Regions from separate parts of the Homo sapiens genome. Here region 1 is linked to region 2. The links come from fine-mapping of genetic effects on gene expression. A gene starts in region 2. The other region holds a variant in brackets. All regions are shown on one strand. Distances are between the middles of the regions. Region 1 has its middle 10 kb from the start of OR6B2. Region 2 holds the start of COPS9 (COP9 signalosome subunit 9).

Evidence for each region. PIP is the estimated chance that this variant, and not a neighbour inherited with it, causes the effect. A credible set is the group of variants that fine-mapping cannot tell apart.
Region 1: its variant is the best candidate, but not a certain one, in a credible set for the expression of COPS9 in sun-exposed skin (GTEx, PIP 0.80).

The regions. Positions count from the first base shown.
Region 1 is chr2:240,037,799-240,043,171 of GRCh38, reverse strand. No RefSeq gene overlaps it. Among named protein-coding and RNA genes, the nearest start is that of OR6B2, 10 kb to the right of the region's middle. The variant G/A (reference allele first, on the strand shown) is at 2,195.
Region 2 is chr2:240,133,225-240,138,597 of GRCh38, reverse strand. COPS9 (COP9 signalosome subunit 9) reads left to right here and starts at 2,293. Exons shown (of 3, transcript NM_001163424.2): 1 at 2,293-2,376; 2 at 4,593-4,665. The coding sequence starts at 2,314. RefSeq lists enhancers at 1,772-1,881, 1,892-1,991 and a silencer at 2,432-2,481.

The DNA of each region.
Region 1 (5,373 bases), 95 kb after region 2:
CCAGAGGAGACATGGGATTTAATGGGAGGGCAGGATGGGGTAGCAAAGGGCTTTGTGGGGTCTGATTTAAGGGATCAAGCTGACTTGGGGTCAGGAATTTAGAGCCTGCCTCTCAGTGGGTTGAGCAGGAGAGGGCATCGGGCTTGGGTTTGGCTTGCTCCCAGTGAAGCCTGGTGGTGCCTTGGCCACATGCATGCCTGTTCATCCACAGCTCTTCATCCACGGCCCTTCATCCACGGCTTTTCATTCACAACTTTTCTTCAACAGCTCTTCCCCCACGGCTCATCCACGGCTCTTCACCCATGGCCCTTCATCCACGGCTCTTCACCCATGGCCCTTCATCCACGGCTCTTCACCCACGGCCCTTCATCCACGGCTCTTCACCCATGTCCCTTCACCCACGGCTCTTCACCCATGTCCCTTCATCCACGGCTCTTCACCCACAGTCCTTCATCCATGCCTCTTCACCCACGGCCCTTCGTCCATGCCTCTTCACCCACGGCCCTTCGTCCATGCCTCTTCACCCACGGCCCTTCGTCCATGCCTCTTCACCCACGGCCCTTCGTCCATGCCTCTTCACCCACGGCCCTTCCTCCATGCCTCTTCACCCACGGCCCTTCCTCCATGCCTCTTCACCCACGGCCCTTCCTCCATGCCTCTTCACCCACGGCCCTTCCTCCATGCCTCTTCACCCACGGCCCTTCCTCCATGCCTCTTCACCCACGGCCCTTCGTCCATGCCTCTTCACCCACGGCCCTTCGTCCATGCCTCTTCACCCACGGCCCTTCGTCCATGCCTCTTCACCCACGGCCCTTCGTCCATGCCTCTTCACCCACGGCCCTTCCTCCATGCCTCTTCACCCACGGCCCTTCCTCCATGCCTCTTCACCCACGGCCCTTCGTCCATGCCTCTTCACCCACGGCCCTTCGTCCATGCCTCTTCACCCACGGCCCTTCGTCCATGCCTCTTCACCCACGGCCCTTCCTCCATGCCTCTTCACCCACGGCCCTTCGTCCATGCCTCTTCACCCACGGCCCTTCCTCCATGCCTCTTCACCCACGGCCCTTCGTCCATGCCTCTTCACCCACGGCCCTTCGTCCATGCCTCTTCACCCACGGCCCTTCGTCCATGCCTCTTCACCCACGGCCCTTCGTCCATGCCTCTTCATCCACGTCTCTTCACCCACGGCCCTTCATCCATGCCTCTTCATCCAAGTCTCTTCATCTACGCCTCTTCAGCCACAGCTCTTGCCTGGTGGGCTTCTCACAGCAGGGCAATGTCTTGCTGCTGTCTGCCAGGGCCACCTTCAACACCTGTCTTCTTGTTTCTAACATGTACTTTCTAATAATCTCTTACTAAGTCTATCTTTATCAACTCTGGCATCCATTCAGTCCTCTGCACATTTTTGAACCAGAGACAACCAAGAAAAGCTTCTTCAGCTCATACTGTAAGCTTCAGCCCACTCTAGAATTGGCCTTGTGAGTCTGGTTTTAATATAGAAACTGTTTTGTAGTCAGTCGTGCATCCTCAGGCTGCACAGGGCCCTGAAGCCCACTCCTCCTCTGGACCAGACAGTTCCCTGCTGGCTCCCAGGCGCCCAGGTCTGCTCTCACTCGCCAGGGGAAGGGACACTCGGACCCCTGGGAACCCAGTTGGCTTGGAGCAGCTGTCTGGGCAGGAAGGTTGCACAGCGGTGCTTCAGCCACCACTGTACGTCCCAACACTGGGAAATGATGAAGGTCTAAAATCTGCCTGTATCTGTATCTGAGTTATGGAAAAGTTGCTTTTCCTCTTCTGTACTCATTCTGACTGAGTTTGGATCCATTTGCAGAGCCTGTGTCCACCCCATTAAAACCCACTTGTCTCTTCCACATCTGCCAACCCCTAGGCTGCTGCTGGACACCCACGTTGTTGCACAGAAGCACCACTGTCCACTGACTGTCCACCTCCAGCTCATGTCCTTTCCAGAGTCCACTGCTCTCCTCTAAGTCTCTGGCGCCCTCTCAGTTGGTACAGAGTGAGCGCTGAGACTTCCTGCCATCCACAGTCAGGACCTCCCTCCTGGGTCTCCTGGGTGTCATGACCTTGGGTTTGCCTCCTTCATGTGCATTTGATCATCTGGGTCTCCACCCCGACTTGGCCTGCTGAGTCAGACCCCATGTCCCTGCCTTATTTGGAGGAAGGGCTCTAGGCC[G/A]GGTAGCCAGCCCAGGGACCCAGGCACAGGCTCAGAGTGATGCTACTGGTGCCATTCTCAGGGCTGTGGAGAGCTGATTTTCCTCCCCGGGCAGCTGGGCTGGGACATGGTTTGTCTCCTGTTAAATTACTCCATCTTCTCTGTCCATACCCTTCTCTGGTCACAACCAACTGAGTCATTCATTCATTTACTCATTTATTCATCTAAGCACCTACTATGTGCCAGACACTAATCTAGGCACTCAAGGTAAATGATGAACAAAATCGACAAAAATCTCAGTCCTCATACAGTTTACAATCTATTAGATGAGAGAGAAATACACAAAATAAATAGGTAAAATACTCAGAATGGTATTCAGGCATACATGCTAAGGAAAAAAAAATATATCAGCTCTAGTCAGCTGAAAAATGGCCCCAAAATATAGGTCTATGTCAAATCTCTGGAACCTGTGAATACAACTTTATTTGGAAAAAGGGTCTTTGCAGATGTAACTAAATTAAGGATCTGGAGATGGGGAGATCAGTGTGGATTATCCAGGTGGGCCCTAAATGCATTGATGAGCATCCTTATAAGAGACACATGGGGGGGAATTCCAGTTCTTTAATGATGGCATAGAAGCTGGCTTCTCCACCTGCCCCTGCCCCCATACAGAATGAACAACAAATACATAGCACCAAGAGTATCACCGGCAATACCCAAGAACTCAAATATGAGGAGGAAAAAGATCGTGCAACCACAGAAAAGTGAAAAAAACTCCAAGCCGACAGTAAGAGAATTGGACTTCCATATTCACGACATCCCTCTCCCCAAAACTGCCCAGCACAAAGGACACGGAAAATGTCCCCCTGACTCACAGTTTCTACGCTGGAAAAAGTGAGATTGAGGTGGACAACCAGCTTCCTCACTCTCTTAGGTTTCCTGGCAGGAGATCTGTCCCAGCCTCAACCCACAGGAAGTGCTGCTAGCACTGCTAGCACTGCTAGCACCTGAAGGGAAAAACAGCCTTAAGGCCAGCAGAGACAAAGCGGGAAGGTAGGACTACCAACCCCAGCTCTGGAGACTCTGTTCTGTAACTCAGCCAAAGAAGATGTCAAATCAGTGTGGCAGTTCAGCAGCACCATGCTGTAGGAGGTTTGTTCCACACCTTCCCTGGGCACAAACTGTGAGCCAGCCTTCCCACACTACCAGGATATTCCCTCTGGGGCCTCCCTCATTTGGGATGGTTGGCACTCTGACTGTTTACTAGAGCTGAGGCAAACCTGGGCTTAAGGAATCATCTAGTGTTGAAAAGAAAGCAGCAACATAGTGAGGTGGCAGGGAGGGAAGAAAGAAAATCAATAGATAAATTACAAGGAGTCTCTAAGCAAACAAATCTAATAAAAGCCAAACAAGCCAGACAGAGAAGACTGGAATAAATAATTAACCCTTCAGTGAAAAACTATAGATGCACATCTATGGGAGACAACAGCAAACAGAAAACATGACCTCCTTAAATGGACAAAGCAAGGATCCAGTGACAGACCCCAACAAGACAGTGATATGTGAACTCTCTGAACAACAATGCAAAATTGCAGTTTTAAGGAAACTCAGTGATCTCCAAGATAACACAGAAAAACAATTCAGAAATGTATCAGAGAAATGTAACCAAGAGATTGAAACAATAAAAAAACAAACAAACAGAAATCTTGGAACTGAGAAATACTTTTGCTGAACTGAAAAATTCATTAGGGCCTCACAAGAGATGAATGGATTAAGGAGAGGAAAGAATCAGTGAGCTTGAAGACAGGTTATTTGAAAACACTGAGTCAGAGGAGAAAAAAGAAAACAATGAATAAAAAGGAATGAAGATCACCCAATACCAGATACAGAAAATTACTTCAAAAACCTGAACCTAAGAATTATTGATGTTCAAGAAGGAGTTGAGCAAGGGCAAGGAATAGAAAACTTATTCAAAGAAATAATAACAGAAAACGTCCCAAAACTAGAGAAAGAGATAAACACCTAGGTACAAGAAAGTCTAAGAACACCAAACATAATCAACCCAAATAAGACTGTGCCAAGGCATATAATAATCAAACTCTCAAAGGTCAAGGACAAAGAGAGGATCCTAAAAGTAGCAAGAGAAAAAAAGCAAATAATTTATAAAGGAATTCCAATTTGTCTGGCAACAGACTTCTCAACAGAAATCATACAAGTCAGGAGCAAGTGGGATAACATTTTCTAAGTGCTAAAAGAAAAAAAAAAGGTCAGTCAAGAATACTGTATGCAGCAAAGATATCCTTCAAATATAAAGGGGAGATAAAGTCTTTACCAGACAAACAAAAGCTGAGAGAATTCGCCACCATCAGACCTATCCTACAAGAAACGCTAAAGGTAGTTCTTCAATCCAAAAGAAAAAAACATTACTGTGCAGAAAGAAAGCACGTGAAGGTATAGACCTCACTGGTAAAATTAAATACATGGACAAATCCAGAATACTATAATACTGTAATTGCGGTGTGCAATGCATTCATAACTTGAGTATGAGGCCCAAAAGACAGCTCTATCAAAAACAGTAATACCCACAGTGACTTGTTAAGAGATAGGCAATATAAAAATCTGTAAATTGAAACAACATAAAGTTAAAATGTGGAGGGGGATGGAGTTAGTGTAGAGGGTTTTCATTTTTCCTTTGTTTGTTTCTATTCTTTGTGACATAAGTCTTCATCTCTTTAAAATAATAAAACATCCAATATCTATAAGATATTTTTGTAGCTTCATGGTAACCACAATGCAAAAGTTTATAAGAGATTCACTAAAAATTAAAAAAGCAATAAATTAAACATACTACCAGAGAAAATCACTTAGCCACAAAGGAAGACATTAAAAAAAAAAAAAAAACGAAAATGGGAGTTACAAAACACCTAGAAAACAAGTAACAAAATGGCAGTAGTAAGTCTCTACTTATCAATAATAACATGGAATGTAAATGCACTCAATTTTCCAATTACAAGGCACAGAATGGCCAAATAGATGAGGAAACAAGATTAAACCATATGCTGCTTACAAGAAACTGACTTCATCTATAAAGACACAAACTGAAAGTCAAGGGTTGGAAAAAGATATTTGATGCAACTAGAAACAAACAAATATCAGTAGTAGCCATACTTAGATAACATAGGCTACAAATAAAAGACTGT
Region 2 (5,373 bases):
TGGGAGCAGTGCCCAGGAGGCAGCAGGAAACGGAACTGAGAAACCCCACCTGTATCTGTCATCGGTCAGGGACAGCGGGGCCTGGGCAGGCTCTGTCTTCCAGGGACGGCTCTAGGCTTTGAGGATGCTGGGAGGAAGGGGGCTTCACCTGGGGCACTGGAAGACTGGGCAGGCAGCACGATGGTGTCTCAGGGATGGGCCTCCAGCAATAGGATGGCCTCTGCACAGGTGGTGAGCCCCCCATCCCTGTAGGGTGTACAAGCAGACCGTGGAGACCCACAGCTCCACCCCTTAGCTAGTAAAGACCTTGACTTAATGGGTCAATCTTCTTAGTCACTGCCAAGCCCCTGTTCCATCGGACTGACTTTCACTTGGGTCCTTCAGGGTGATGCACATTGGCATGGCATGAGGCTCACCCAATATCCACTGCCAGCTTCTCCCTGCGTCCCACACTGTCCACTCAGGCCAGGCGGCCCCTTTTCAGGCCACACACACCCCTCACATTTCAGCTCAATTCCTGTCCCTGGAACTACCCTCATCCATGCCGCCCCCCACTCCCCTTCTCTACAGCCTAACCCCCAAACCCAACTCCTCTAAGGCCTGTTAAAGGAAAACATTATTGGAAATTTTCAGAAGTTGTTCCGAACCCTGGAGACGGGTGTGGGGACCACTGCAACGGGATCTTGCAGTGGGGGAGGGAGACCAGGCTCAGCTCCGAACAGCACAGGCAGTGGGGGTTTGCGGCTGAGGAGCAGGTGGGGTCGCGGGTGGCAAATGACTGGGAGGAACACAGTGCGGGACGGGATGCTGGCTCGGCCGACCCCGCAGGGCTTTCGCTGAAGACAGGTCTGGGCCATCAGACATCCTGGGGATGCTGGGGGACCAGGAACCCGATCCAATATCCAGGGTGGGGGGCTCTGGCTAAACCAACTTAGCAGGGCTCTCTGCGAAAACTGAACCTGACAATGCAGTGCACAGATGGGCCTGGGAGGAGGTTAGGAGGCCACCGAAGTCTGGCTGAGCAAGGAATCTTTGGCAAAGTCTAGTTCCAGGACCTGTTGCTCTCTCTCCTTCCCTCCCCTGTTCTTCCTCTCTCCCTCTCTTCCTCCAACCTTCTCCCTCCTCTTACCCCTTTCCTTCTCCTTTCCCTCGCATTTCTGTCACATTCTTTTTTGTTGTTTTTTTCATTACGGTAAAACTTCACAAATTGTTTCCATCTTAACCACATTTCAGTGACGTTAAGCACATTCACGAACTGTGCAGCCATCACCAGCAGCCTCTACAGATCCTTTTCATCTGTCAAGGCTGAAAATCTGTCCCCACTAAACACGAACTCCCCATTTCCCCTTCCCCAGACCCTGATAACCCCCTTCTACTTTCTGTCTCTATGACTTTGACTCCTCTAGGGGCCTCGGCTGAGTGGAATCATGCGGTGTTTGTCTTAGGACTGGCCCGTTTCCCTCGGCAGAGCGTCCTCAATGTTCCTGCGCGTGGCAGCAGGTGTCGGCATTCCCTTCCTTTTAAAGGCTGAGTAATGTTCCACAGTGTGCATGGCCCACATTTGCTTATGCACGTATCCATCGATGGGCAGGGACAGCGGGGGACGCTTCCCTTTTTCATTTATTATAAATAACGCTGCTGTGAACGTGGGGTAAAGACGCCCCTTGGAGCCTCGGCTTTTGGTCCTCTGGGCTTGTGCCCGGAAGGGGAGTGCTGGGCCACGTGGGTGTCCGTGTTTGATTTTCTGGGACCTGCCCCCCCCCGTCTCCCGCCCCGGCTGCCGCGTCTCACTCCCCGCCGCGGTGCGAGGGGCCCCGTGTGCCGCGCACCCTTCCACCCGTGTTTTGCTGTTTTTTTGACTCTGGGCGTCCCAGGGGTGCAGCGGCCGTGGGGCCCTGGTTTGCTTTCACCTCTTCATCTGCTCACTGGCCGCGAGTGTGTCTTCTTCAGACAAACGTCTGAAGGTCAAGCCCTGGGCTCCTGTGAACCCGGCCGTCTTTGCGGCAGAGTCTGAGGCTCCTTCTTTATTCTGGATCCGGCCTCTGGTCGGAGGCGTGCTCTGCAGGCACTGCTCCCATTGCTGGCAGCCTTTTCTCCCCGTGGCCGCCCGGCCGCCCATCAGAGGCGTTGCAGACGCCCGCCCTCGCCAGCGCAAAGACAAACGCCGGTGGCCGCGGACGCGCCGGCGGCCGGGAGCACCCCAGCGGGCGGGCACCACAGAGGCGCGGTCCTCCGGCGTCTAGATCTGCCATGTGGCGCGCGCCGGAAGCGGCTCTGAGGCCGGAAGTGAGCCTAGAGCGCCGCGGCCCCGAGATGAAGCCGGCGGTGGACGAGATGTTCCCCGAGGGCGCCGGGCCCTACGTGGACCTGGACGAGGTGGCACGGGCCCGGCGGGAGTCTCCGAGCGTGGGGAGCGGGGAAGGGGGAGCGGAAGGGCGGCGTCCTGGTGCGCGGGTCCCGGGGAGGGGAGGCCGGGCGGGTGGGCGATGGGCGCGGCTCCCAGGCTCCCTGCCCCGCGGAGAGCAAATCCCGGTTTCTCCGAGCACCTGGTGAAAGGCGGCGACCGACCGCGGCGGGAAGCGTGTGCCCTAGCCCGGGGGACCAGGAGGCGCAGCCTGAGGGTTGAGTGCCTGCTGGGTGCCCCCACGGCCCCCGGGAACACACCCGTGGTCAGAGGAGTTGCGTTTGCTGCTCTTCGATGGCTGCAGCACCCCATGGGGGCCCGCGGTGCGTCTCCATAACCTCGTGTGGGATTTGAGCTCGTGTTAGGGGATTTGGGGGAAGAAAGTGGGCTTTACTGTGCCTTGGAAGCGAGGATAATTCTCCGATTGGGCCTCTTAATCTTAACTAGAATGAGGGAAGACTGGAGCAGCCGTCATTCCTGTCGGAGCGGAAAAGGAGACATCTGGCATTTATGTGCTTTGCGTAGTGGCCTCGTTCTTCTTTTTAATTATACAGGATTATACAGTCGTCTTGGGGTTTTGTTGGTCTCTATTGTGTTCACAGAGTGACCTTGTCTGATGTGAGCGTTCTGAGATGGTTTATGGTCAGCAGGAGAGCACCACAGCCTAGCTCAGAGTGGCAGGCCAGCTCCTACATGTCAGGGCCTTATGTGCTCTTTCTCAAAGCTTAGGGGCTGCAGAGGTGGTCAGAGGCAGCCCTTGTGCTTGTGGAGGTAATAGCATGGCAGAGCGGCTGATTGCAAATACCAGGTGTCATAGAAAGCCGAAGGCGCACCGACGGATGGACCCTCAGGGCTTTGAGGGGGCTCAGCAAAGGTACAGCTGAGGAGTCGACTCTGTGGCCAAATGCTGGGGGACACATTGGTGTTTGCCAGGTAGTGGGGGATGAAGGCCCGGCAGGAGCAGAGCCCTGGGTTGGGGGATGCCGACTGGCTCACCAAGGGAAGGGAATGTTGTGTCGTTTAACATGGTTGAGCGTGCAGTGCCAGAGAGAGGGGAGACAGTGGGTAGGGACTCTCTCCCTACCCAGATCGTGAAACCATCTGGAACCATGCTAAAGAGGGTGGCTCTGTGCACCCCGCTCCCGAAGCACTTCCATTAAACCCAGGCTTCTCAGTCCTGTTTTACAGTCCTAGGCTTCACAGTCCTAGGCGATGTGGAGCCACCGGAGGGCTTTACAGTGGGGAGTGAGAGGCTCCGACTTGCTCTGTAGGGTGGCAGCATTTACGGGTGAGAGGGTAGAAAAATGAGAGCAGGGAGAACAGGAGAGTTGAAGAGGGTGTGAATGAGGCAGATGGAGGTAGGGACAAGCTTCAAGTGGTAGAATGCGCGTGGCTTACTGTGCTGATGGGGACAGGGAGGGTGGCTGAGAAGCCAGGGGAGGAGACTGAGTGTCCTGGCTTTTCTGAGAGTGTCTGAAAGGGAACAAGGGCATGCAGCTATGTGGGGATCAGGGCAGGTCTGAGCAAGCGGCCTTGTGAATGCTGGGGCCAGGGCAGCAGCAGGACCTGTGGCCAGCTGTCCAGGGTGCTGCTGTCAGAGGAATCTGCTCCCTCTGTCACCGGTTGACTCTAAACAGGACCCAAAATCCTGAGGGCTTCAGATTGCCCAGCTTGGGTTGTGACATGGTTTTTCCACTGCCGTGGAGTTGTGGCAGTGGACGGTCCATGATAGCAGCGGGGCACCAGAACCTCAGAGGCAGAGCAGGTCAGTTTCCTCGGGGAAGTGGTTTCATTCCCAGAAGAGAGAGGGAAGGGATCCTGAGTGGAGGCGATGGGCTCAATTTCGCATGTTTGTGGCCTCTGGCGATGTCCGGCGAGGGATCGGAAAGCTCTCCTTGAGGGGCACAGAGAAGTAGTGGTGCTTAGGTCAGTGGTAGGTTTCTTTTTTAAAGGCAGACAGGAATCAAGGAACAGAAGCCCTTGAGAGACCTTAAAAATCATTCCTTTGAATTCCTCCCCCTCCCCCCAATACACATTCCTGTGTCTGGAACTAAAATGTTGACTCCAACTTGAGCCTGTTTCCCCTCACCCATCTTCTTTTTTTGTGGGGGTAGTGGCCCTGCAATGCACTTATCACCTGTTCTTTCGGAAAACGCACCTGACATAACCTTGCCTTTCCATTCCCCAGGCGGGAGGCAGCACCGGGCTCTTGATGGACTTGGCAGCCAATGAAAAGGCCGTTCATGCAGACTTTTTTAACGGTAAGGATGCTTGGAATGGGATGCCAGATTTAATCTGAATATTTCTTCTCTAGGTGAAGGCAGTGAAGCAACTTGGTGACATGAATAATTTGGATCATAAGGTGGTAGAGCCCCTGCGCTCCTCTCAGAATGCAGTGCAGCCTCTGTGGAGCGATGACACGGGCTGCGGCCACTGGCAGGCAGCCTTATTTTTCAGGAGAAAAGTAGCATGAAATTGTTCCCAGCTTGCAGCCCAGTAGTTGAGTTTGAGCTCTGGCATGCGTGTTACATGTGCCTGCGGACACCTCAGACTGTAGCCAGGTCTGGGCCCTCACCCCACACACGGCCATAGGAACCCCATCTGTCTCCCTGTCTCCGCCCTCTCCGGGTAGCCGGTTTCCTTTCCTCTCCCAGCCCACCTGTGTTTGCCTGCCTGGGTTCTCATGCCCTCAGCTGCCTTTGCAGAGGGACAGCCATACTCCAGCTCTTGCCCAGCTCTGAAATCAGGACGCAGGATGTGTTTTCCTCTTGATTTAAGGGCTTCAGTGCTAGTTACCAAAAACATGGGTAAACCAAATGAACAGTGAAAAGCAAATTTTCTGTAACATCTTCAGACCTGCTAGAGGGAATATTTCTCATTCTCTTCTGATTTCTTCAGGCCTTATTCCTATAGATGATATTAACCTTTACTAAGGGTTCAAATAATAAGTAAATAAGATAGGTTTCTTA